7 linked regions of the Homo sapiens genome follow. The protein of the gene in region 1 interacts with the protein of each later gene in a pairwise test. Each region holds a gene or a part of one and is shown in the gene's direction. Other genes may lie near its edges.

Region 1 (3,500 bases):
TTAATAAAATATAGCTTCCCCCCGGAAAAGATGCCCTTTCCTCTTTTAAAATGAATATTAAAGAGATTTCCAACTACCAGATATTTTCATAACTGATATACAAAACAAGGTTTTTAAACAGGTTGTTTTTTCTCATATTAAATATTGGTGACATAAAATGGTACCATCTGCAAGACAAACTATTAACACTTGGAAAGAACACTTTTCTAACTCTAAAATGGATTCTATGTGGGGGGAAAAAGCAGTTTTAAAGGCACGATTTAAAATGTGAAATCCTTCTGAAGATATGCAATTTATTGGTCTTTTGCAGTTTATTGGCAGTGATCTTTTACAGAACAAAAATGCAAAATGTAAGAAAGTAAAGTATCATAAAGCAGAATCCCAAAATGGAAATGTAACATACAAAACTGATACACCAGAAATATTGTGAAATACGGATGTCACATTGCTTGGACTTTTTTTTTTTTTTTTTTTTTTTTGAGACGGAGTTTTGCTCTTGTTGCCCAGGCTGGAGTACAATGGCATGACCTCAGCTCAGTGCAGCCTCCGCCTCCAGGGTTCAAGCGATTCTCCTTCCTCAGCCTCCCAGGTAGCTGGGATCACAGGTGCCCACCACCATGCCTGGCTAACTTTTTGCATTTTTAGTAGAGATGGGGTCTCACCATATTGGCCAGGCTGGTTGCGAACTCCTGACCTCAGGTGATTGACCCGCCTTGGCCTCCCAAAGTGCTGGGATTACAGGTGTGAGCCACTGCGCCCGGCTGCTTGGACACTTTTTTTAACCACTTGTTAAAGAAATACATTAAAATGAAAATGTTTTGATGCCATTCAAATACTGTTACTTAAAAACTCTGGTTTTTAAGAAGGATATAATATAATACCAGAGAAATCTGCTTTGAATCTTGGAAGGCTTTTTCACCCTAAAGCAACTGCCTTTTGAATAAGCATCATAAAAAAATGCAGTGTAAGATGATTCACAAATAGTGCAAAATAAGGCAATAGTCTTCCATCATTTTGTCAGGGTTTCCTAATAAGGTTAAGTTCTCTTTCAACACCCCCCTTAGTCAAAGGCAGTTTTTGGTTTCTTTGGTAATACGTACAAATTGCTTCATTCCACATCTGTCATTTCTAGTCCATCACTTTCTTTGACATATACCACTGAACCCAAGGCTTTCCCAGAAAGAGATCCTGTGCCAGTCCCTTCAATCCTTGTAAAGTTTTCTTGATTTGTGTCTTCTAATCTTATTTTCTTGGTGTTTTGAAATAACTGAGTCGCTGGTTCCAACCTGCTTTTTTCAGTCCCTCGTATTAAGTGATCATCCACTTTTGAATCCATATGTATAGCAGATACCTGAGTAGCAGATTTACTAAGTGAAAATCCCATTAGGATAGCTGAACAAATGTGAAAGTAATTTGCAGGTACCTTTTTAAGTAGTGGAAGTGTTTCTTCAACTTGATTACTGAAAAAAAAAAAAAAAGTAACAAGTGAATGCAGCAGGAATTTCCCTAACTTCATGGCAATGTTTGTTTGAATGAAAAGCTGTGGTGATACTAGAAATATAAAGTAAAATTGCCTCCTACCTTTCAGTGTTTACATTTTCTTTGTGGGAGGGTTTGCAGGTTCTAAAGATTTATTTGAAAGTCTTTTTAAAAGGAAATTTATCTGATTGTATGTTTTATCACCTTTCAGAAAATAGTAGAGCTTCTCTTAGTCCTTTCTTTCATTCTTGCTAGCGAAACCTCTTTATTCATTACTAATGGGCTAAAGAAATAACGACTGAAGGCCAAGTACTCTGCTAGTACTTTATTTTCTGTAAAAAATAAAGATGTCCTATAAAGATACTTGTGATTGGCTGGGTGCGGTGGCCCACGCCTGTAATCCCAGCACTTTGGGGGCCGAGGCGGGTGGATCACCAAAGGTTAGGATTGAGAGACCAGCCTGGCCAACATGGTGAAACCCCATCTCTGCTAAAAATACAAAAATTAGCTGGGTGTGGTGGCATGCACCTGAAATCCCAGCTATTCAGGAGGCTGAGGCAAGAGAATAGCTTGAACCTGGAAGACGGAGGTTGCAGTGAGCCAATATTGCACCACTGCACTCCAGCCTGGGCGACAAGAGCGAGACTCTGTCTTAAAAAAAAAAAAAAAAAAAAAAAAGATACTTGTGATTAAGGATGTCTAGTCTGTAAAAAGAGATGATCGGCCGAGCGCAGTGGCTCACACCTGTAATCCCAGCACTTTGGGAGGCTGAGGTGGGTGGATCACGAGGTCAGGAGATCGAGACCATCCTGGCTAATATGGTGAAACCCCATCTGTATTAAAAATACCAAGAATTAGCCGGGCGTGGTGGCGGGCACCTGTAGTCCCAGCTACTCGGGAGGCTGAGGCAGAAGAATGGTGTGAACCCGGGAGGCTGAGGTTGCAGTGAGCCGAGATCGCGCCACTGCACTCCAGCCTGGGCGACAGAGCGAGACTCCGTCTTAAAAAAAAAAAAAAAAAAGATGATCATGTAGCATGGAGGGAGGCCTTGGGAAGTTTCCCAAAGGAGGGGAGCCTAGGTTAGGGTTTCGCTTTCAAAGATGGGCAGGAATTTGGTAGGCAGAGTTGACCAGGATGGCAGAAGGGACAGGCTTCCTGTACAGAAAAGGTTTGAGAAAGCCCAGGGCTTACTGGAGAAGAGTGATCTACCCAAGATGCTATAGTAGCAACCTGAGATCTGGAGCAGATTCCACAGCTTCGATCGAAATCCCTCACCCATTTTTTTTTTTTTTTTGAGATGGAGTTTCACCCTTTCACCCAGGCTGGAGTGAAGTGGTGCGATCTCGGCTCACTGGACCTCCACCCGGCAGGTTAAAGTGATTTTCCTGCCTCAGCCTCCTGAGTAGCTGGGATTACAGGTGCCCGCCACCAGGCCCAGCTAATGTTTGTATTTTTATTTTTATTTTTATTTATTTTTTTTCCAGTCTATATTTTATTTATTGTGGTAAAATATATATAACATTTACCATTTTAAACACTTTTAAGTGTACAATTCAATGACATTGAGTACATTTACATTTTTGTGCAAACATCATGGTCATCCATCTCCAGAACTTTTAATCATCCCAAACAGAAACTCTAACGTTTGTATTTTTAGTAGAGACGGGGTTTCCCCATGTTGACCAGGCTGGTCTTGAACCCCTGACCTCAGGTGATCCACCCACCTCAGCTCCCAAAGTGCTAGGATTACAAGCATGAGCCACTGCGCTCAGCCTCACCCACTTTTTAGAATGTATTATGTCTTTAATATTTACCTACTGTGGTATCTTTGATAGTTTACAATTTCATACTCATCAAGCTGTAATTACTGACTGAACATTTCTAAAGAATCATCTTGAAACCCTGTTTATCCATATTTGTGACTGAATATCAGTGTTTATAACAAAACAGAGTCCTGGGTCTACTGTAGTAGCCTAAATATAGTACTTACTCAAATATTAATATAACAATTAGGTAAATAG
Region 2 (3,500 bases), on another chromosome or scaffold:
GCAGGGAATTGGGAGACCCCCCAGGTCCCTGGCTGGCCGCTAAAACCACCCCTGCCCACTGTGGTTCCAGGTGCTCCTCTCCGAATTCCGGCCCAGTGGGGAGCTGTTCGCCATCAAGGCTCTGAAGAAAGGGGACATTGTGGCCCGAGACGAGGTGGAGAGGTGGGGACCTGCCGTGGTCCTCTGGGGACCTCTTTCTTCTCTTTTGGGAAATGACAGAGCAGTTCTCTCCTTGGAGCTACAGGGAGAGTGACTCATAGTAGTCACTAACGCCAGGCACAGTGGCTCTTACCTGTAATCCCAGCACTCTGGGAGGCCGAGGCAGGTGGATCACTTGGGCTCAGAATTTCAAGACCAGGCTGGGCAACATGGTGACACCCCCATCTTTACAAAAAATACAAAATAATTAGCTGGGTGTGGTGGCACATGCTTGTAGCCCCAGCTACTCATGAGGCTGAGATAGGAGGATCGCCTGAGCCCAGTAGGTCAAGGTTGCAGTGAGCTGAGATCGCGCCACTGCACTCCAGCCTGGGCAACACAGTGAGACCCTGTCTCAAAACAAAAAGTCACTAATACCTACTAGCCTAATACCAAGATAATAATAGCTCTTAGGAAAGTTATTCATTTGTTCCTCCATGTAGCCCTATAAGATAAATACTGATGGCACAGAGAGGTTCAGCAATTTACCCAAGGTCACACAGCCAGTAAGCAGCAGGTCCAGGATTCAAAGCTAGAGACTCAGGCTCTGAAGCCTGTGCCCTTTGTGGTGCCACCATACTGCCTCTGCTTTAGGGTCAGGTTCCTGGGTTCAAATCTCAATTCTGCAGCATGGGCTTGGAGATCCTGGGGAGGTCACTTCTCCCTTCAGAACCTCAGCTTCTTGGCTGGGCATGGTGGCTCACGCCTGTAATCCCAGCACTTTGGGAGGCTGAGGTGGGCAGATCATCTGAGGTCAGGACATCGAGACCAGTGTGGCCAACATGGTGAAACCCCGTCTCTACTAAAAATACAAAAATCAGCCAGGCATGGTGGCGGGTGCCTGTAGTCCCACCTACTTGGGAGGCTGAGGCAGGAGTATCGCTTGAACCCAGGAGGCGGAGGTTGCAGTGAGCCAAGATCGCACCACTGCACTCCAGCCTGACTCTGTCTCAAAAAAAAAAAAAAAAAAAAAAAAGAACCCCTCTTGTTGTGGAGAAGCAGAATGCTATTGCCTTCCACACATGGTTGTCAGGTGCTCTCTACACAGTGCCTAACCCCTCTAAACATTCGGTACAGGCACTGAGATTGTGCCTGGTCTTCCCAGCATCCTTTTGATAATCAGGAACCCAACTGAGAAAGACTGAAACAAGTAAAGAAATTTATTGGTCTGGATCTGAAAAGTCCAGGAGTGTGCTACCTTCAGGCATGGCTGTATCCAGGTGCTGAGATGACGTTTCTCAGTTCTGCTTCCCTCTGTATGGGCTTTGGTTGCCATCTGGGAGTCTGGAGTAAGTGGCGGCCATGGTCTCTGACTTCTATCCCCCACCCCTCCCCAGCCTGATGTGTGAGAAGCGGATATTGGCGGCAGTGACCAGTGCGGGACACCCCTTCCTGGTGAACCTCTTCGGCTGTTTCCAGACACCGGAGCACGTGTGCTTCGTGATGGAGTACTCGGCCGGTGGGGACCTGATGCTGCACATCCACAGCGACGTGTTCTCTGAGCCCCGTGCCATGTGAGCCTGGACCCCAGCCCGGGCCCCTGCCTCCCCTACAGCATCTGACACTTAGTCCCCCCGAGAGGCTGGCAGCCTGCTTCTCACCCCTCCACCCTCAGGCCTTGCTTCCCTCAGCCTCCCAGAGCTTTGGGGAGACTGGGGGGCTTTTGAGGATGTGGAAGCCAGGCTTATGTGACCCTCCCTCCTTGCAGGGTGGCCCCACCCCTCTCAGCAGCCTCTCTCTCTCTGCAGCTTTTATTCCGCCTGCGTGGTGCTGGGCCTACAGTTTCTTCACGAACACAAGATCGTCTACAGGTGTGTGCGTGTGTGCATGCATGTGCACACTGCCCGTTGTGGGGACAGGACCCAGACCCCCGCTCATCCCTCTTTCCACCCCTCCAACCCCCAACAGGGACCTGAAGTTGGACAATTTGCTCCTGGACACCGAGGGCTACGTCAAGATCGCAGACTTTGGCCTCTGCAAGGAGGGTGAGGGGCTGGCCTCTGGATTAGACAAAGGAGGGGGAAGGAATGGGGTCCCTAACCCTATTCGGGGTGCCCCCCACCCTGACCCTGGGACAGGGCTGGCTGTGTGGACAACCCCACATTGGGCTGAGTGACTCCTCTGGCCCCCATAACCTCACATGGCCTTGCTGTCCCCAGGGATGGGCTATGGGGACCGGACCAGCACATTCTGTGGGACCCCGGAGTTCCTGGCCCCTGAGGTGCTGACGGACACGTCGTACACGCGAGCTGTGGACTGGTGGGGACTGGGTGTGCTGCTCTACGAGATGCTGGTTGGCGAGGTGAGACCCCGCCCCTGTGTGTCTCGGATCTCATTGGAACCTGCGCGTGCCCAGGGTGGGATCCAAGTCTGCCTCCACCATGTGTTGTGTGATTGAGGGCTGCTGGCTCTGCTTCCCTGGCCTCAGTTTCCACATCTATAAAATGGGGCATTTCCCTGCCCAAGTAAGCCAGCACCCAAGAGCTGCAGCAGAGTGTGGGGCTCAGGCCGGGCTGGGTTTGGAGCAGCCAGAGGAGGGGCCTCGTTCACCCCGGGCCTCCCTCTCCCCAGTCCCCATTCCCAGGGGATGATGAGGAGGAGGTCTTCGACAGCATCGTCAACGACGAGGTTCGCTACCCCCGCTTCCTGTCGGCCGAAGCCATCGGCATCATGAGAAGGGTGAGGACCCCCGACGTGGGGCGGGCCTGGGGAGGGGCAGTGGGGCCCAGGAGGGGACAGATCCTGACACAGTGCTCCTTCCTCCAAGCTGCTTCGGAGGAACCCAGAGCGGAGGCTGGGATCTAGCGAGAGAGATGCAGAAGATGTGAAGAAACAGCCCTTCTTCAGGGTGAGATTCCCCACAAGGACCTCAGTGACCCCGGCCCTCCCCCAGGGCCGATTCATCACCCCACAGCAGACGGCCCCCATGCCTAGCCGCTTTGCCTCAAGGGCCTCGTTGCGCCTCAAGGGCCTCGTTGCACCTCCAGGGCAACATCGTCACCTCCTTTGACACCCCCATTTCCCTCCTCCACTTTTGTTCCCCCCAAGGACCCTCCTAATCCCACATCTCCACTTTTCCCTTTTTTTTTTTTTTTTAGCCAGGGTCTCGCTCTGTCGCCCAGGCTGGAGTGCAGTGGCTCAATCTCGGCTCACTGCAACCTCCGCCTCCCAGGTTCATGCAGTTCTCCTGCCTCAGCCTCCCGAGTACCTGGGATTACAGGCGTGCACCACTCCACCACACCAGGCTAATTTTTGTATTTTTAGTAGAGACGGGGTTTCGCCATGTTGGCCAGGCTGGTCCT
Region 3 (2,740 bases), on another chromosome or scaffold:
CTCAAATAACTTGCTCAAATTCTTGTTAATTGGTAAGTAGTGAGGCAAAGACTCAAAATATTTGGTTGACTCTAAAATGAATGCCTTTGACCACCATAATATATAACTGTTTCTTATTATTCACGGATTCCATATTTGTGAATTTGCCTACTTGCTAAAATGTGTATCCACCAAATCAATACTTGTAGCACTTTTATGGTAATTCTCAGACATGCACGGAGAGGTGAAAATTTGAGTTGTGTGAAGTTGAGTCCCCAGCCAAGGAGCCTTCTTGTTTCAGCTCTCAGGCTAGAAAATAGTGTCCATTGCGCAGTCTATCTAGTGCCACTTTTTTTGTTTTGCCTTCTTGTGCATTTTGTTGGTGATTTTGCTGTTAAAAATGGCTTCTGTACCATTCCAAGTCAAGTGCTGTCTAGTATTCCCAATCACAAGAAGGCTATGCTGTGCCACATGGAGAAAACACATGTGTTAGAGAAGTTTTGTTTGGGCATGCGTGACAGTGCTGCTGACGTGAATTTGATGTTAATGAATCAACAATACGCACTAAATGAGGTTATGTATTGCTTGGTTGACAAAACTGTGACCACAGGCTCACAGGAACATAGCCCTCTATTTCCTGTAGGAGCAATGGTTCTATATTTGCTAATTCAGTATTGGAACTGACTTCATAGAACAGAACTCACTGGAATGACAAGGATAGGCCACATTTCCTTGTGAGGACCCCAAGAAGCAAAAGCGCCCACTGTGGCCAGGCCAGACAATCAGACGGGGCTTATTTGGGGATGTCCTGGCCCCTTTGTCAGCCAGCCCCAAGTGTGTCAGTCCCATCGTTAACGCTGGGCTTTCCCATTCTCTCCCGCAGAGGGGCACAGCCGAACCCTTCCCGAGGCTCCACAACTTGTACAGCACCCCTCGCTGCGCGCAGCAGGCCGCCCTGCCCCGGCTGAGCCGCAGGATGGCGAGCCAGCACTCCTATCCACTGAACCGCTTCTCCTCCGTGCCTTTAGACCCCATGGAGCGCCCCATGTCCCAGGCCGACCTGGAGCTGGACTACAACCCGCCGCGGGTGCAGCTCAGCGACGAGATGTTCGTGTTCCAGGACGGGCGCTGGGTAAATGAGAACTGCCGCCTGCAGTCTCCCTACTTCTCCCCATCCGCCTCCTTCCACCACAAGCTGCACCACAAGAGGCTGGCCAAGGAGTGCATGCTGCAGGAGGAGAACAAGTCTCTGCGGGAGGAGAACAAGGCCCTGCGCGAGGAGAACCGGATGCTCAGCAAGGAGAACAAGATCCTACAGGTCTTCTGGGAGGAGCACAAGGCCTCGCTGGGCCGAGAGGAGAGCCGGGCCCCCTCGCCACTGCTGCACAAAGACAGCGCGTCCCTGGAGGTGGTGAAGAAGGACCACGTCGCCCTGCAGGTGCCCCGTGGCAAGGAGGACAGCACCCTGCAGCTCCTCCGGGAGGAGAATCGCGCGCTGCAGCAGCTGCTGGAGCAGAAACAGGCCTACTGGGCGCAGGCAGAGGACACGGCCGCCCCTGCCGAGGAAAGCAAGCCCGCCCCCTCACCCCACGAGGAGCCCTGCAGCCCCGGGCTGCTGCAGGACCAGGGCTCCGGCCTCTCCTCCCGCTTCGAGGAGCCCAAAGGGCCTCCGGCCCGGCAGGAGGACTCCAAGGAGCTGCGCGCCCTGCGGAAGATGGTCAGCAACATGTCCGGGCCCTCCGGGGAGGAGGAGGCCAAGGTGGGCCCGGGCCTGCCCGACGGCTGCCAGCCCCTGCAGCTGCTGAGAGAGATGAGGCAGGCGCTGCAGGCCCTGCTCAAGGAGAACCGGCTCCTGCAGGAGGAGAACAGGACCCTGCAGGTGCTACGGGCAGAGCACAGGGGCTTCCAGGAGGAGAACAAGGCCCTGTGGGAGAACAACAAGCTGAAGCTGCAGCAGAAGCTGGTCATTGACACCGTGACCGAGGTCACCGCGCGCATGGAAATGCTCATCGAGGAGCTCTACGCCTTCATGCCGGCCAGGAGCCAGGACCCCAAGAAGCCTAGCAGGGTCTGAGGCCTCGGCCTTGCACCGGGACGCCGAGTTTGGGACACCGAACACTGGGCAAAAGAGAATCCCCTGCCTTCCTTTGTCGTCCTCGCCTTCCCCAGCCAGTTCGTACCTATTGAAAAGCAGCGTTAGCAGCCTTCCTAAACTCAGAGTTTTAATAAAGGTGTGAGGAGGCTGGGGCCAGTTGACACCAGCATGCTGCCTTTTTCTTTCTTTCTTTCTTTCTTTCTTTTAATAAAAGATAGACAATATTTTAGAGCAGTTTTGGGTTCACAGCTAAACTGAGCAGAAAGTACAGGGAGTTCCCATAGACTCCCGTCCCACAAATGCATAATCTCCCGCATTATCACCATCCCTCCAGAGAGGTACACTAGTGACAGTCTTTGAACCTACATTGACACATAATTATTCCAAAGTCCGTAAGTTTGTATTAGGGTTTGCTGCTGGTGTTGTACATTCTGTGGGTTTGATCAAATGCATAGTGACATGTAGCCACCATTGTAGTACCATATAGAGTATTATAGAGTATATGTAGTACCATATAGAGTATTTTCATTGCGCTAAAAATCCTCTGTGCTCTGCCTGTTCATCCCTCCCTCCCCCTCCAGCCTCTGGCCACCACTGATCTTTTTTACAGTCTTCATAGTTTTGCTTTTTTCAGAATGTCATATAGTTGGAATCGCCAAGTGTGGA
Region 4 (3,500 bases), on another chromosome or scaffold:
TCACTGCATCCTTGAACTCCTGGGCTCAAGTAATCCTCCCACCTCAGTCTCCCAGGTAGTTGGGACTACAGGCACGTGCCAACAAGCCCAGCTAATTTTGTATTTTTTCCTTTTTTTTTTTAACTGAAATTACATAACTGAGATAATTTTTGTCTTTTTGTAGAGACAGGATCTCACTGTGTTGCCCAGGCTGGTCTTGAACTCCTCAAGTGATTGCCTCAAGTGATCCTCCTGCCTCAGCCTCCCAAAGTGCTGAGATTAGAGGCATAACCCACTGCAACTGGCCTGAAGTGAATATTTCTTTTAAATTGTGTTGAGCATAGACCATAGGGAAGCAAGGGTGGAAGCAGAGAGACTGGTTAGGAAACTAAAGTAATAATCCAGGTGACAGAATCTGGATACATTTTGATAGTATAGCCAACAGACTTTGCTGACAGATTGTGTGAGAGTAAGAGTCAAAAATGGCTTCAAAGTTTCTAACCTGAGTAACTAGAATGGAGGAAGTGCCATTTACTATTATGGGAAAATCTGCAGATTTGTGAATGGGAGAGAGAGGAAAGGTTGGTATTTTAGCTTGGCCACGTTAAGTTTGAGATGCCTCTAAGAAATTCACATTGAGATGTGGAGGTGGAGGAGGCAGTTGAATAAATGAGTCCAGAAGTGAGGAGAAAGATCTGGCAATAGATATAATTTTGGATTTTATAGTAGTGTTTTGATAGGAGTTGTTGATATCACCAAAAGTGATATTCTATGGAGTTTGGGTGGATTTGGAGTTCTCTGCAAAGGTGACTGAAGGAGCAGCCAGTGAGCAGAGAAAAACCCACTGTTCAGTAGGTGTTCTAGAAGCAAAATGAAGAAAGTAATTAAGGAGGAAGGAAAAATAAGTTATGTTAAATGTTGCTGTAGGTCAAATGAGATGAGGATTCATAATTGACCAGTACATTTAGCAACATGGAGGTCATTGGGATCTTGATAAGAAACTTTTGGTGGAGTAAAGGGTACAAAAGCCAGATGGGTACTTTTATTTATTTATTTATTTTTATTTATTTATTTATTTTTGAGAAGGAGTTTTTGCTCTTGTTGCCCAGGCTGGAGTGCAGTGGCGCTATCTCGGCTTATTGCAAGCTCCGCCTCCCAGGTTCAAGTGATTCTCCTGCCTCAGCCTCCTGAGTAGCTGGGACTACAGACACCCGCCACCATGCCCGGCTAATTTTTGTATTTTTAGTAGAGACAGGGTTTCACCATGTTGGGCAGGATGGTCTCGATCTCCTGACCTCGTGATCCACCCGCCTCGGCCTCCCAAAGTGCTGGGATTACAGGCGTGAGCCACCGTGCCCAACAATGGGTACTTTTATTTAGTAGAGTATGGGAGACAGCGAGTATGGATGCAGCACTCTTTTACTGTGTTCTTTGTCCAGATTGTTCTAGCCTGTCTTTAACTCCTCTTCTTGCAGGTCTTTGCTCAAATAATCATTTTCTCAGAGGTGTCCCTGATCTAATTAAATACTCTTCTTGTAAATAGACCTATTGCACCGTAAACCTTGAGTTGCTCTTATGTTACCAATTAGTTTTGCAGTTGTGCCATGATTTGATTAAAGTGTGTTTATTTCAGTAGAGCTTAAGCACACAAGAGGAACTACTGTGCTTGTTTTTGTTGATCATCTTATCTCTACCTCTGAGTACAGTGCCTGGTACCTAGTACAAACTTAATAAATGTGTGACGCAAGAATAAAGGAATGAATGAATGGAAGAATGATATAATGCCACAGAACTTTCAAAGGTATGGCATATTTATCTATCATTTACAAAAACACAAAGTAATTAATGGATGGACGAGGGTACATTATAATAAAAACATTTTAGAAAGTTCGTCCTAAAAAAAACAAAGCCGGGCACAGTGGCTTATGCCTATAATCCTAGCACTTTGGGAGGCTGAGGTGGGCCGATCACTTGAGGTCAGGAGTTTGAGACCAGCTCGGCCAAGATGGTGAAACCCCGTCTCTACTGAAAATACAAAAATTAGCCAGGCGTGGTGGTGGGCGCCTGTAATTCCAGCTACTTGGGAGGCTGAGGCAGGAGAATCGCTTGAACCCAGGAGGCAGAGGTTGCAGTGAGCTGAGATCGTTCCATTGCACTCTAGCCTGAGTGACAGAGTGAGATTGTCTCAAAAAAAAAAAAAAAAAAAAGAAGAAAGAAAGAAAGTTTACAGAATCTGTAGCCTAGGAAATGTAATTACTGGTCACATAAAATTTTATTTAATGTGATACAGTTTCACATTGTTTAATTCAGAGTTCTTATATTCATAATGTCTGCTTTTTGGCTGGGCATGGTGGCTCACACCTGTAATCCCAGCACTTTGGGAGGCTGAGGCAGGTGGATCACCTGAGGTCAGAAGTTCGAGACCATCCTGGCCAACATGGTGAAAGTCCATCTCTACTAAAAGTACAAAAATTAGCCAGGCATCATGGCACACGCCTCTAGTCCCAACTACTCAGGAGGCTGAGGCAGGAGAATCGCCTGAGCCTGGGAGGCAGAGGTTGCAGTGAGCCAAGATCGCACCACTGCACTCCAGTCTGGGCGACAGAGTATGACTCTGTCTTAGGAAAAAAACAAAACAAAACAGTCTGCCTTTTTTGCTGCAACATATCAATAGATGTTATGGAATTTAGAAGAACTTCTTTAGATCAGTAAATTTTCACAGTTACATTTTAGAAGAGTAATTAATTAGGGAACAGATATTGAGAGGTTTTGCTAACTTTGGTCATGGACCATGGAATCATGCAGTATGTTGCCTTTTAGACTGGCTCCTTTACTTAGCAATGTGCATTTATAGTTATTTTATGTCTTTATATGTATGGCTTGGGAGCTCATTTGTTTTTATCACTGAAAAATAATCCATTGTATGGATATATCACAGTTTGCTTATTCACCTTTTGAAGGACATCTTAGTTGCTTCCAGTTTTTATCAATTATGAATAAAGTGTCCTAAAAATTTATGTGCAGGCTTTTTCTGGGCAAAAAATTTTTAACTCATCTAGGAATATGATTGCTGGATCTCAGGTAACCCTATGTTTAGCTTTGTAAGAAACTCACAGCTGTTTTTCTTTTTCTTTTTTCTTTTTTTTTTTTTTTGAGACGGAGTCTCACTCTTTCGCACAGGCTGGACTGCAGTGGCGCCATCTCGGCTCACTGCAAACTCCGCTGCCGGGTTCACGCCATTCTCCTGCCTCAGCCTCCTGAGTAGCTGGGATTACAGGCGCCCGCCACCGCGCCCGGCTAATGTTTTGTATTTTTAGTAGAGACGGGGTTTCACCGTGTTAGCCAAGATGGTCTCGATCTCCTGATCTCGTGATCCGCCCGCCTCGGCCTCCCAAAGTGCTGGGATTATAGGCGTGAGCCACCGCGCCCAGCCATACAGCTGTTTTTCAAAGCAGCAGTACCATTTTCTATTTCCCACCAATGAATGAGAGTTCCTGTTGCGCCCCACCTTTGCCAGGATT
Region 5 (3,500 bases), on another chromosome or scaffold:
TTGGCTTCATAAAATGAGTTTGGAAGTATTCCCCCCTCCTCCCTCCTTACTCCCTCTTCCCTCCCTCTTCTTCCTTCTTCCTCCTCCTCCCTTTTCTTTCTTCTTCCTCCTTCTTTCCTCCTCCTCCTCCTCTTCCTTCTTCTCCTCCTCTTCCTTTCTTCTTCTTTCTTCTTCTTGATAGAACTGTGCTATGAGGTCATCTGTTCCTGGGCTTTTTCTTTGTCAGAAGAGTTATGACTACTGATTCAATCTCCTTACTAGTTATAAGTCTTTTCAGATCTTCTATTTCTTCTTTATTTTAGTCTTGATAAATTACAAGTTTCTAGGAATGCATCCATTTCTTCTAGGTTATACAGTTTTTTGGTGAATAATTGTTCATGGTAGTCTCTTATGGTCATTTGCGTTTCTGTGTTATCAATGGTAACATCTCTTGGTTTTGATTTTATTTATTTTCGTCTTCCTTTTTACTAGTCAAACTAAAGCTTTGTTGATTTTACTTATCTTTTCAAAATCCAGCTCTTAGTTTTAGTGGTCTTTTCTATTGTTTTTGTAGTCTCTATTTCATGAGATTTTGTTATTTCCTTCTGCTAACTTTTTCTAGTTCCTTTAGATGTAAAATTACGGTGTTTATTTAAGATTTTTTTTAAATATAGGCGATTATTGCTATAAACTTTCCTTTTAGAACTGCATTTGTTCTATACATTTTGCTATGTCGCATTTCAATTTTAATATTTCTTGTGATTTTTTAAAATTTTCTTTTTGATTTCTTCTTTGACCCATTGATTATTCAGGAGTATTTTGTTCAATTTCCACATAGTTGTCAGCTTTCCAACTTTCATTCTGTTATTGATTTCTGGTTACATACCATTGTGGTCTGAAAAGATACTTGATAGGATTTCAGTCTTCCTCAGTTTGTTGAGTCTTGTTTTGTGACCTGCTGCATGATCTACGCTGGATAATTTTTCTTGTGTGCTTAAGAAGAATGTGTATTATCTGCTGTTTGATGGAATGTTCTGTATAAAGGTTGAGTATCCCCAATCCAAAAATCCAAAATCCAAAATGTTCCAAAATTTAAAACTTTTTGAGTACCAACATGATGCTGAAAGGAAATGCTCTTTGGAACATTTTTGGTTTTGCATTTTTGGATTAGGGATGCTCAGCTGGTAAACATAAGGCAGGTATTCCCAAATCTAAAAAATGTAAAATTCAAAACACTTCTAGTCCCAAGCATTTCAGATAAGGAATATTCAACCTGTATGTTAGATCCATTAGATCCAGTGTATAGTTGAAGTCCAATATTTCCTTACTGATTTTCTGTCTGGATGACCCATCCATTATTGAAAGTAGGATTTTTGAAGTCTTCTAGTATTATTGTGTTACTATCTATTAATGTCTTCAGATCTGTTAATATTTTCTCTGTTTATTTAGGTGGTCTGATGTTGGGTACATATATATATTTACAGATACTGTATCCTCTTGTGGAATTGGCCCCTTTCTCATTATATAATTACTTTCTCTGACTCTTTTTACAGTTTTTGATGTAAAGTCTGCCCTATCTGATAAAACTTTAGCTTCCTCTGCTCTCTTTTGGTTTCCATTTGCATGGAATATCTTTTTTCCTATACCCATGCATGTGCTTAAAGGTGAATTGAGTCTCTTGTAGACAACCTGTAGCTGAATCTTGTTTTCTTTATCCATTCAGCTGCTCTTTATCTTTTGATAGGAGAATTTGGCCCATTTACATTCAAGGTAACTATTGATGGGTAAAGACTTCTGTCATTTTGTAATTGTTTTCTGATTGTTTGGCAGATTATTTGTTTCTTCCTCTCTTGCTGTCTTCCCTTGTGTTTAGATGATTTTCTGTGGTGGTATGCTTTGATTCCTTTATATCTTTTGTGCATCTACTATTGGTTTCTACTTTGTGGCTATCATGAGGTTTACATAGAACATCTTATAGTTATAGTAGTCTGTTTCAAGCACTAACAACTTAATTTCAATTGCATTAAAAAACTGTACTGTTACTCAGACCCTCCTGCACATATTTTATGTTTTTGATGTCATTATTTGCATTTTATATTGTGTATTCATGAAAAAATTATTGAAGCTATAGTTATTTTTAATACTTTTTTTTAAAAACCTGTATTTTAGAATTAAGTAATTTACACATGACCATTACAAATTTAGTATATTATTAATTTGATTATATATTTATCTTAACAGTGAGTTTCATACTTTCATATGTTTCCATGTTGCTAATTAGTGTCCTTTCATTTCAGCTTGGAGAACTCTTCAGCGTTTCTTGTAAGGCGCGTCCAGTGGTGATAAACTCCCTCAGCTTTTGTTTGTCTGGGACTGTTTATATCTCTTTCATTTCTGAAGGACAGCTTTGCTGGGATACATATTCTTGTCTGGTAGTTTTGTCTTTCAGCACTTTGAATATATCATCCAACTCTCTCCTGGCCTACAAGGTTTTTGCAGAGAAATCCACTTGTGGTCTTATAGGGTTTCTCTTGTAGAAGATGAGTTTCTTTTCTGTTACAGTTTTAAAATTCTCTTTCATCTTCTATTTTTGCCAGTTCATTATAATGTGTGTCAGTGAAGTCTTCTTTGGGTTGAATCTTTATGGGGTCCTATGAACTTCCTGTACCTGGATATCTTTCCCTAGATTTATGAAGTTTTCAGCATTTTTTTTTTAAATCAGCTTTCTGTCCTTTCTCTCTTTTCCTTCTTGAATTCTCGGGTTTGTTTTTCATTTTCTTGGGTTTTTTTTTTTGATGGTGTCTTGTTCTGTCACCCAGGCTGGAGTGCAGTGGCATGATCTCAGCTCACTGCAACCTCCACCTCCCAGGTTCAAGTGATTCTCCTGCCTCAGCCTCCCACGTAGCTGGGACTACAGGTGTGCACCACCATGCCCAGCTAATTTTTGTATTTTTAGTAGAGACGGGGTTTTGCCATGTTGGCCAGGCTGGTCTTGAACCCCTGACTTCATGTGATCCACCCGCCTCAACCTCCCAAAGTGCTGGATTACAGGTGTGAGCCATCGTGCCTGGCCTTGAATTCTTAAAATGCAAATATTGTTTTGCTTGATGGTGTCCTATAATTCAGGTAGGCTTTCTCCACTATTCTTTTTTTTTTCTTTTTTTCTCCTCTGACTAGATAATTTCACATGATCTGCCTTTGAGTTCACAGGTTCTTCTGCTTGATCAGGTCTGCTATTGATGCTCTCTATTGCATTTTTTGTTGTTATGTTCTTCAGCTCCCGAATTTGTTTCTTTTTATTATTCCTATCTCTGTGTTGAATTTCTCATTTGTTTGTATATATTTTTTTATTTCATTATCTGTGTTCTTTTGTAGCTCACTGAGTTTGCTTGAAACAATTATTTTGAATTCTTTATCTGTTAGTTCATAGATCTCCATTTCTTTGTGGGTGATTACTGGAAAATTACTGAGTTTCTTTGCTAATGTCACGTTTCTTTTTTTTTTTTTCTTTCTGTTTCTTG
Region 6 (3,500 bases), on another chromosome or scaffold:
AGGGAGGAATAAGGGATTTGAGAAGCTCAGGTAGCCCAGCGAGCAGTTACAGCAAGAAGCTTAGGCTGGGCGGGTGGGAGGTTTGTTCTTGGGTCCGCCCAGCATCGGACTTCCTGGCTTCCTCTGATGGCTTCTGCCTGAGCGCTTCCCCAGGAAAGGCCGGGCTGCTCCTATGAGAGCCACGTCTCGTTTCCAGCCCTAGCGAATGGCTTCAGTTTGCTTGGTGGGAGTTGGGCAGAGTCCACCTGAGCAGCACGTGCAGGGGCTGGGCAGGCTGGGCTGCTCCCGGGGCCACCCTCTCCCCACAGTGCATGCCAGCACTTGCATGGGTCCTCTCAACAGCCCTTGAGTTTCAGCTGGAGTGTCCCGGTGAGGAGAGTCGTGAGGACGCCATGTGTGTCCTGGGCGCGCCCCATCACTTTCCTCTCTGTTCCCTCTGCTTTCCAGCCCCTGAAGTGCTGTGCCTGGAGATACCATTGTGGACCCTGGAGAGGCACCTGCTGCTTATGCGGTAAAACCTCTACCACCCCAAACCTGGTCAGTTTGAGGGGAGCCGCTGCCATAGTATCCACAGAGAAGGCCGGAGTTCCAGCCGTGTGGAGCAGCAGAGGGGAGTCTGACAGGGTCACCTCCTCCACAGAGAGAATTGGCAGCTGACTGCACTGCCAGGAGCCAAGGCCTAGGTGTGTGGAGCCTGGAAGACCAGGGATACCTGAGGCAGGAGGTGCAGCGTGTGGAGTGAGAAACCCGAGAGGGACTGGGGCCTGTGCTCAGGATCAGCAGAGCAGGCAGGCAGAGTGGAGAGGGAGAGACGGAGCCCCAGAAGGGGAGCAGGAGGAGAGGGAAGTAGTGGCAGCAGCCCAGGCCAGGCGTGTGTCCTGCAAGTGCTAGGACCAGCCACCCCTCCCCATGGCCTCCAAGCCGGCTGCCGGGAAGAGCAGAGGGGAGAAGCGGAAGAGGGTGGTGCTGACACTGAAGGAGAAGATTGACATCTGCACGCGCCTGGAGAAGGGCGAGAGCCGGAAGGCACTGATGCAGGAGTACAATGTGGGCATGTCCACCCTCTACGACATCAGGGCCCACAAGGCGCAGCTGCTCCGGTTCTTCGCCAGCTCCGACTCCAACAAGGCGCTGGAGCAGCGGCGCACGCTGCACACGCCCAAGCTGGAGCACCTGGACCGCGTCCTGTACGAGTGGTTCCTGGGGAAGCGCTCCGAGGGCGTCCCCGTGTCAGGCCCCATGCTCATCGAGAAGGCCAAGGACTTCTACGAGCAGATGCAGCTCACTGAGCCCTGCGTGTTCTCCGGAGGGTGGCTTTGGCGCTTTAAGGCCAGACACGGCATTAAAAAGCTAGATGCATCCAGTGAAAAGCAGTCAGCCGACCACCAGGCCGCGGAGCAGTTCTGTGCGTTTTTCAGGAGCTTGGCTGCTGAGCACGGGCTGTCCGCCGAGCAGGTTTACAACGCTGATGAGACCGGCCTTTTCTGGCGGTGCCTGCCAAATCCCACTCCGGAAGGCGGGGCTGTGCCTGGCCCCAAGCAGGGCAAGGACCGGCTGACCGTGCTGATGTGTGCCAACGCCACGGGCTCCCACAGGCTCAAGCCCTTGGCCATCGGGAAGTGCAGCGGTCCCAGGGCTTTCAAAGGCATCCAGCACCTGCCCGTCGCCTATAAGGCCCAGGGGAACGCCTGGGTGGACAAGGAGATTTTTTCCGATTGGTTCCATCATATCTTTGTGCCCTCGGTGAGAGAGCACTTCAGAACCATAGGTTTGCCGGAAGACAGCAAAGCCGTTCTCTTGCTGGACAGCTCCCGGGCTCACCCGCAGGAGGCCGAGCTGGTGTCCAGTAACGTTTTCACCATCTTCCTGCCTGCCAGCGTGGCCTCATTGGTGCAGCCCATGGAGCAGGGCATTCGGAGAGATTTCATGAGGAACTTCATTAACCCTCCGGTCCCCCTGCAGGGCCCCCACGCCCGCTACAACATGAACGATGCCATATTCAGCGTGGCCTGTGCCTGGAACGCAGTCCCTAGCCACGTCTTCAGGCGGGCCTGGAGGAAGCTGTGGCCGTCGGTTGCGTTTGCCGAAGGCTCCTCCTCTGAGGAGGAGTTGGAGGCAGAGTGCTTCCCAGTGAAGCCCCACAACAAGTCCTTTGCACACATCCTGGAGCTTGTGAAGGAAGGCTCCTCCTGCCCGGGCCAGCTTCGCCAGCGCCAGGCCGCCAGCTGGGGGGTAGCGGGAAGGGAGGCAGAAGGGGGACGGCCCCCTGCTGCCACGTCGCCAGCAGAGGTTGTGTGGAGTTCAGAAAAGACTCCGAAAGCTGACCAGGACGGCAGAGGAGATCCTGGTGAGGGCGAGGAGGTGGCCTGGGAGCAGGCGGCCGTGGCCTTTGACGCAGTCCTGCGCTTTGCGGAGCGGCAGCCATGCTTCAGTGCGCAGGAAGTGGGGCAGCTGCGGGCGCTGCGTGCCGTGTTCCGGAGCCAGCAGCAGGTGAGGAGGCGGCGTGGTGCCCTCGGGGCTGTGGTCAAGGTTGAAGCCCTCCAGGAGGGCCCTGGTGGCTGTGGGGCCACAGCTCAGTCTCCCTTGCCCTGCTCATCCACAGCAGGTGACAACTGATGGCTTCTCTGCCCTGCCCTGGCCACTGGCCCTGTTTCTCCCCACACCCTGGAGTGGCATGGTCCTGTGCCCCGACCCCACCTGAGGCAGGAGGGCATGTGCAGACACTCAAGAGCCCTTCCAGGAGTGGGTCGCCCACGGGTGTGGCTCGGGTGCCCAGGACGGTCTGTGCCCGAGGTTCCTGTCAATACAGGTTTTATTTTATCACTTGCCGTGTCATCCGAAAGTGAGGAAATGTTTTGGAAGGGTCCACCCTAGCCTAGAACAAGCCAGAGCCGCACCCTGGCTGGAATGGGGGCCAGGCTGAGCCGATCTGGTCTCGTGTTCGCTGGCTGATCATTGCAGTATCAGAGGGTGGAGATGTCAGTCTGTCCACGTGGAGAGAAGTTGCCCTCCAGGCCGACAGGAGGCCATGCCCACCGCCCCTGGACAGGCTTCGTCTCAGAAGGCTCTATCTGCTGGGCTGGCGGCCATCCCCGTGTTGGGTGGACCCCGAGCACGGTTGCCTGAGGTCCGATGGCCCGAGAGCTGGGACTCAGTTCTTGGCCTGCTAGCGGCTGAACAGGCCGCACATCTCACTTCAGTTGTGGCCTCATTCAGCAGAATGACTCTGGAACCATCCTCTGTTACCCGCAGATCCTGTCCCATGGGCTCTGGCCCCAAGATGTTGGGGGGCCCCACGGAGAGTTGACTTGGTAGAGTTCCTTTCTGGGAAGAAAGTAGGAGTGGCTGACCAGGCCCTGCTCATCACCCGGATAGAGGACACGGACCCTGTGTGGTATTTTGGCATTTTGGCTCAGAGTCCAATGTACCATGTTGCCCAGAATTTCATACTTATGGCCTTTACATGAATACGTCTTGATCAGACATTCAGAGATTAGTCT
Region 7 (3,500 bases), on another chromosome or scaffold:
AAGCAGTCGGTAAAAAGTCAAAAGAAGAAAATAAAGTTTTGTGACCCTTAAACATTTTATAAAATTCAAATGTTAGTGTTCATAGTAAAGTTTTACTGGTGTGAGGCCAAACTCATTCATTTACATCTTGCCTGTGGGTGCTTTTGTGCTGCAAAGGCAGAGTGGCAGAGTGGCGACAGAGACGATGGCCCGCAAAGCCTAAAATAGTGGCTGTCTGGCCTCTTACAGAAAAGGTTTGCTGACCCCTGCTCAAGATAATCATAGTTCTCTCCAGGCCTTGCACTAAACTGCTCCAGGATCTCAATCTAAAAGTACTTTCTTTTCATTTAAAAAGAAGTGTTGCTATTTTCTTCTTATGTAAGCAATAAATGTTCATTATGGAAATATTAGAAGATGCAGATAAGCAAAAAGAAGACATTAAAATCACCCATAATTCTATCACCCAGGAATAACTACTGCTGGTGTTTTGACTTACCACCTTCTGGGTTATCTAACAGTGTGCTGTGTTTATATGTGCATGCCTGTGACACATGTGTATATCCTGCATACGTACAGCTTTTACAAACTGTACACATCTGTCCTCTTCACTTAAAAACACATCTTGGCCAGGTGCGGTGGCTCACACCTATAATCCTAGCACTTTGGGAGGCCGAGGCGGGCGGATTACCTGAGTTCAGGAGTTTGAGACTAGCCTGGGTAACATGGTGAAACCCCATCTCTACTAAAATACAAAAAATTAGCTGGGTGTGGTGTCGTGCGCTTGTAGTCCCAGCTACTTGGGAGGCTGAGGCAGGAGAATTGCTTGAACCCGGGAGACAGAAGTTGCACTGAGCCAAGATCACGCCACTGCACTCCAGCCTGGGTGACTCCGTCTCCAAAAGAAAACACACACACACATACCTCTAACTGAACCCTTGGGGGACACACAGGCAGGGTGCCCAGAAGGCAGCTGCACCCAAGCATCTGGAGCTGAGGGGCTTGGTGGGGCCAGGGCTACAGATCTGGAGTCATCAGCACGCGGGTGGTGGTTTCCACTTCGGGAGGGGATGAGGTCACCCAGGAAGCATGCCCAGAGAGGAAGAGCAAAGGGCCAAAGAGAGAATTGTGGGAGTGTTGACATTCAAGGGACAGGTAGAGGAAGTAAGTCCACCAGACCCGGGAGGAAGGAAGAAGCAGGAGGAGACCCAGGCAGCCAAAGGGAGTGGAATCCGAGGCCCAGGGCCCAGGACAGTGCCTGGCGCTGAGCAGGTGCTTGTGAAATGAGTGAGTGACTTTGAGGAGGCTGAACCCTGGTGAGTGAGTGACACTGATAAAAGACATTTAGAGAACAGTTGAACAACTATGAGATGTTCAGAGGCCTGGGGGAGGCCATGCAGGCCAAGGAGGCCTCCTGGGCCCAGCCTGGTGGGAGGGAGGCCATGCGGAGTGTGAGGAGGGAGAGGCGGGGCAATCCAAGTGACCAGAAGCTGGGAGCTGGTCAGAGGAGCCCAGTGGAGTTCTTGGCGGTGACATGAAGCTGCTTTTTTTAAGCTAGTCTCTCAGATTGGAATGAGGAAAGTTGGAGACGACCAGCCAGGGGTTCTTGTCAGAATGTGGGCACTGGGCGGCGTGGGCCAGCTGGTGGGGGTGGAGTATAAATAGGAATATGGTTTAGAGATGCTGGGAAATCCTCCCCATTCCCTCCCCCTCCTGAGACTGAGAGGTCCCCAGGGATGCCAGGCTCAAAGGCCCCTGCAGTTCTGTTGCCAAAGTTGGGCATGGAGAGAAACCCAGAGACAGGACTGAAGGTCCCATGACAGGCCAGCAGGAGAGCTGGACACGGGATATCTGGCTGAGAGAGGGCTATTGGGTGGGTGAACTCAACACTCTTCTTTTCTTCTCCAATTTATTGTGTAAAAGATGGTAGGCACCAGTTTCTGTGCCAGAGCAAGTGGAGAGGAAACAAGCTGTTTCCTCTGGTATTTAAGGAAGACCTAAGGAAAGGTTCCAGACTTTGGGATCTCAAAAACACAGGACAGTTGGGGAAGGACCTTCCTTGAGTGTCTTTAAAGAGGGCTGATAAAAGGAGCAGAGAGGGCTCCTCTGGCTGGGAGAGTAAGGCGGGCTTTCTCTGGAGGCAGGAGGATGGGGGAGATGGAGGCCAGGCCTATCCTGGCCCTTGCCCCTTGCTCTGGTCTCTGATCTGGGATGTTCTGTACGCCCAGGACCAGAACTGACAGAAGGGCTCCTTGTCCCATCTTATCACTTGGACATCCTGAGCCTCCTCAGAGAGTGCAGACCAGCTTTAGCTGGGCCCCCAAAAAAGGTCAAAAGGAAAATACCAGAAGATGCAATATGCACCTCTATTCCTTAAGCCTCAGGAAGCCAGAGAGCAGCAGGGTGGACATCAGTAGGACTGAAGTGGAGCCACACAGAGGGGCTAGATAGGAGGTCGTGTGGGGTCAGAAAGGGTCATCTGTAGGGGTCAAGGCCAACATCTGAGCCTGAGTAGTGCACCTGCCCTACAAGGCTCTGAGAATCTTCCCTGAGTGATAGAGCCAGGAAGAGGGCCACAAGCCCCTCCGAACCCCTTCCCCACAGCCCTGGAGGCCCTAGCTCAATGCATGTTGCAGGAGGAACTTCTCATTCGGGTTCTTCTCATTCCAGTCCACCCCTCACTGTAGGATGGTGCCTCCAGCCCAAAAACCTCCACAGACCTCACTGGGGGAGTAATTGCTGGGCAGGACACTGCCCCCACTGCCTCAGCCCATCTCCCGCTGCTGTTGGGCCACATGCTGGCTAGAGGAAGAGGGTCAGGTTTCAGCTGAGGCCTCGAGTCCAGCTTTCATATTTCATTTGCTGGTCATTTGAGGGCTCACTTTGTCTCAGGCTTTGGGTCAGGCTCTGGGGGTGCAATGACGAGTCACGCCACAGTGCTTGCCCTTAAAAAGCCCACAGGCAAACTAGGGAAATGACAAGTAAACAGTTACAGGACAGGGAGCCAAGTGCCCTGCCTTGGGATGTCAGAAAGCTGTGGGAGCACAGAAGAGGGACCATCACCTGGCTGGGGACAGTGGAGTTTCGGGCTAGAGGAGATGCAGAGGTCCCCATGGCAGGATGAGTAGCACGTTGTTGGTTTCTCCCTAGTCCCCCATCCATCTGCTTGGGTACCAATCCCTGTATTCCTGTTCCCTCTGAAACCCAAGAAAACTGAGGAGGAAGCATGCCCCGGGGAGTCTGGGGCTGGGTGACTGGACAGTCTAGGCTTACTCTAGTGTGCCCAGAAAGAGGACAGGGCCAGGCCCACCCCAATCATGCTCAAGTCTAACTAGGACAGGAGATGGCCTAATGAGAAGATACACCTAGAAACAGGTCCCTGGCCTGCCTGAAAGTGGAAGGAAAGGCACCAACATTTATTGCACGTGGCAGTGTGTCCTGGATCTTAAAGGTGACTAAGATACAGTCTTTGTCCTTGAGGGATCTAATGTTTCCATATCTGTAGAGGAAAGAGGTTTAAACAA

What was found.
Region 2: the proteins of TSGA10 (region 1) and PKN1 interact in binary tests that used the Homo sapiens proteins (3 or more experiments, as listed by UniProt).
Region 3: the proteins of TSGA10 (region 1) and CBY2 interact in binary tests that used the Homo sapiens proteins (3 or more experiments, as listed by UniProt).
Region 4: the proteins of TSGA10 (region 1) and CEP57L1 interact in binary tests that used the Homo sapiens proteins (3 or more experiments, as listed by UniProt).
Region 5: the proteins of TSGA10 (region 1) and BIRC2 interact in binary tests that used the Homo sapiens proteins (3 or more experiments, as listed by UniProt).
Region 6: the proteins of TSGA10 (region 1) and JRK interact in binary tests that used the Homo sapiens proteins (3 or more experiments, as listed by UniProt).
Region 7: the proteins of TSGA10 (region 1) and CDK18 interact in binary tests that used the Homo sapiens proteins (3 or more experiments, as listed by UniProt).

What each region holds. Positions count from the first base shown.
Region 1 is NC_000002.12:99,148,443-99,151,942, reverse strand, and holds part of TSGA10 (testis-specific gene 10 protein), read left to right. Parts: intron 1-273; exon of another isoform or gene 274-1,108; coding exon of another isoform or gene 1,109-1,384; exon of another isoform or gene 1,385-1,460; intron 1,461-3,500. Other genes in the region: uncharacterized protein C2orf15, read right to left, coding at 1,109-1,384. UniProt on the Homo sapiens protein: Plays a role in spermatogenesis. When overexpressed, prevents nuclear localization of HIF1A.
Region 2 is NC_000019.10:14,467,806-14,471,305, forward strand, and holds part of PKN1 (serine/threonine-protein kinase N1), read left to right. Parts: intron 1-70; coding exon 71-162; intron 163-1,535; coding exon 1,536-1,712; intron 1,713-1,946; coding exon 1,947-2,009; intron 2,010-2,106; coding exon 2,107-2,183; intron 2,184-2,357; coding exon 2,358-2,500; intron 2,501-2,769; coding exon 2,770-2,877; intron 2,878-2,965; coding exon 2,966-3,046; intron 3,047-3,500. UniProt on the Homo sapiens protein: PKC-related serine/threonine-protein kinase involved in various processes such as regulation of the intermediate filaments of the actin cytoskeleton, cell migration, tumor cell invasion and transcription regulation.
Region 3 is NC_000013.11:45,712,320-45,715,059, forward strand, and holds the end of CBY2 (protein chibby homolog 2), read left to right. Parts: intron 1-862; coding exon 863-2,053; 3' UTR 2,054-2,240; downstream 2,241-2,740.
Region 4 is NC_000006.12:109,098,507-109,102,006, forward strand, and holds part of CEP57L1 (centrosomal protein CEP57L1), read left to right. Parts: intron 1-1,685; exon of another isoform or gene 1,686-1,780; intron 1,781-3,500. UniProt on the Homo sapiens protein: Centrosomal protein which may be required for microtubule attachment to centrosomes.
Region 5 is NC_000011.10:102,357,214-102,360,713, forward strand, and holds part of BIRC2 (baculoviral IAP repeat-containing protein 2), read left to right. Parts: intron 1-3,500. UniProt on the Homo sapiens protein: Multi-functional protein which regulates not only caspases and apoptosis, but also modulates inflammatory signaling and immunity, mitogenic kinase signaling, and cell proliferation, as well as cell invasion and metastasis.
Region 6 is NC_000008.11:142,663,468-142,666,967, reverse strand, and holds part of JRK (jerky protein homolog), read left to right. Parts: intron 1-447; 5' UTR 448-909; coding exon 910-2,616; 3' UTR 2,617-3,500. UniProt on the Homo sapiens protein: May bind DNA.
Region 7 is NC_000001.11:205,511,169-205,514,668, forward strand, and holds part of CDK18 (cyclin-dependent kinase 18), read left to right. Parts: intron 1-1,148; exon of another isoform or gene 1,149-1,292; intron 1,293-3,500. UniProt on the Homo sapiens protein: May play a role in signal transduction cascades in terminally differentiated cells.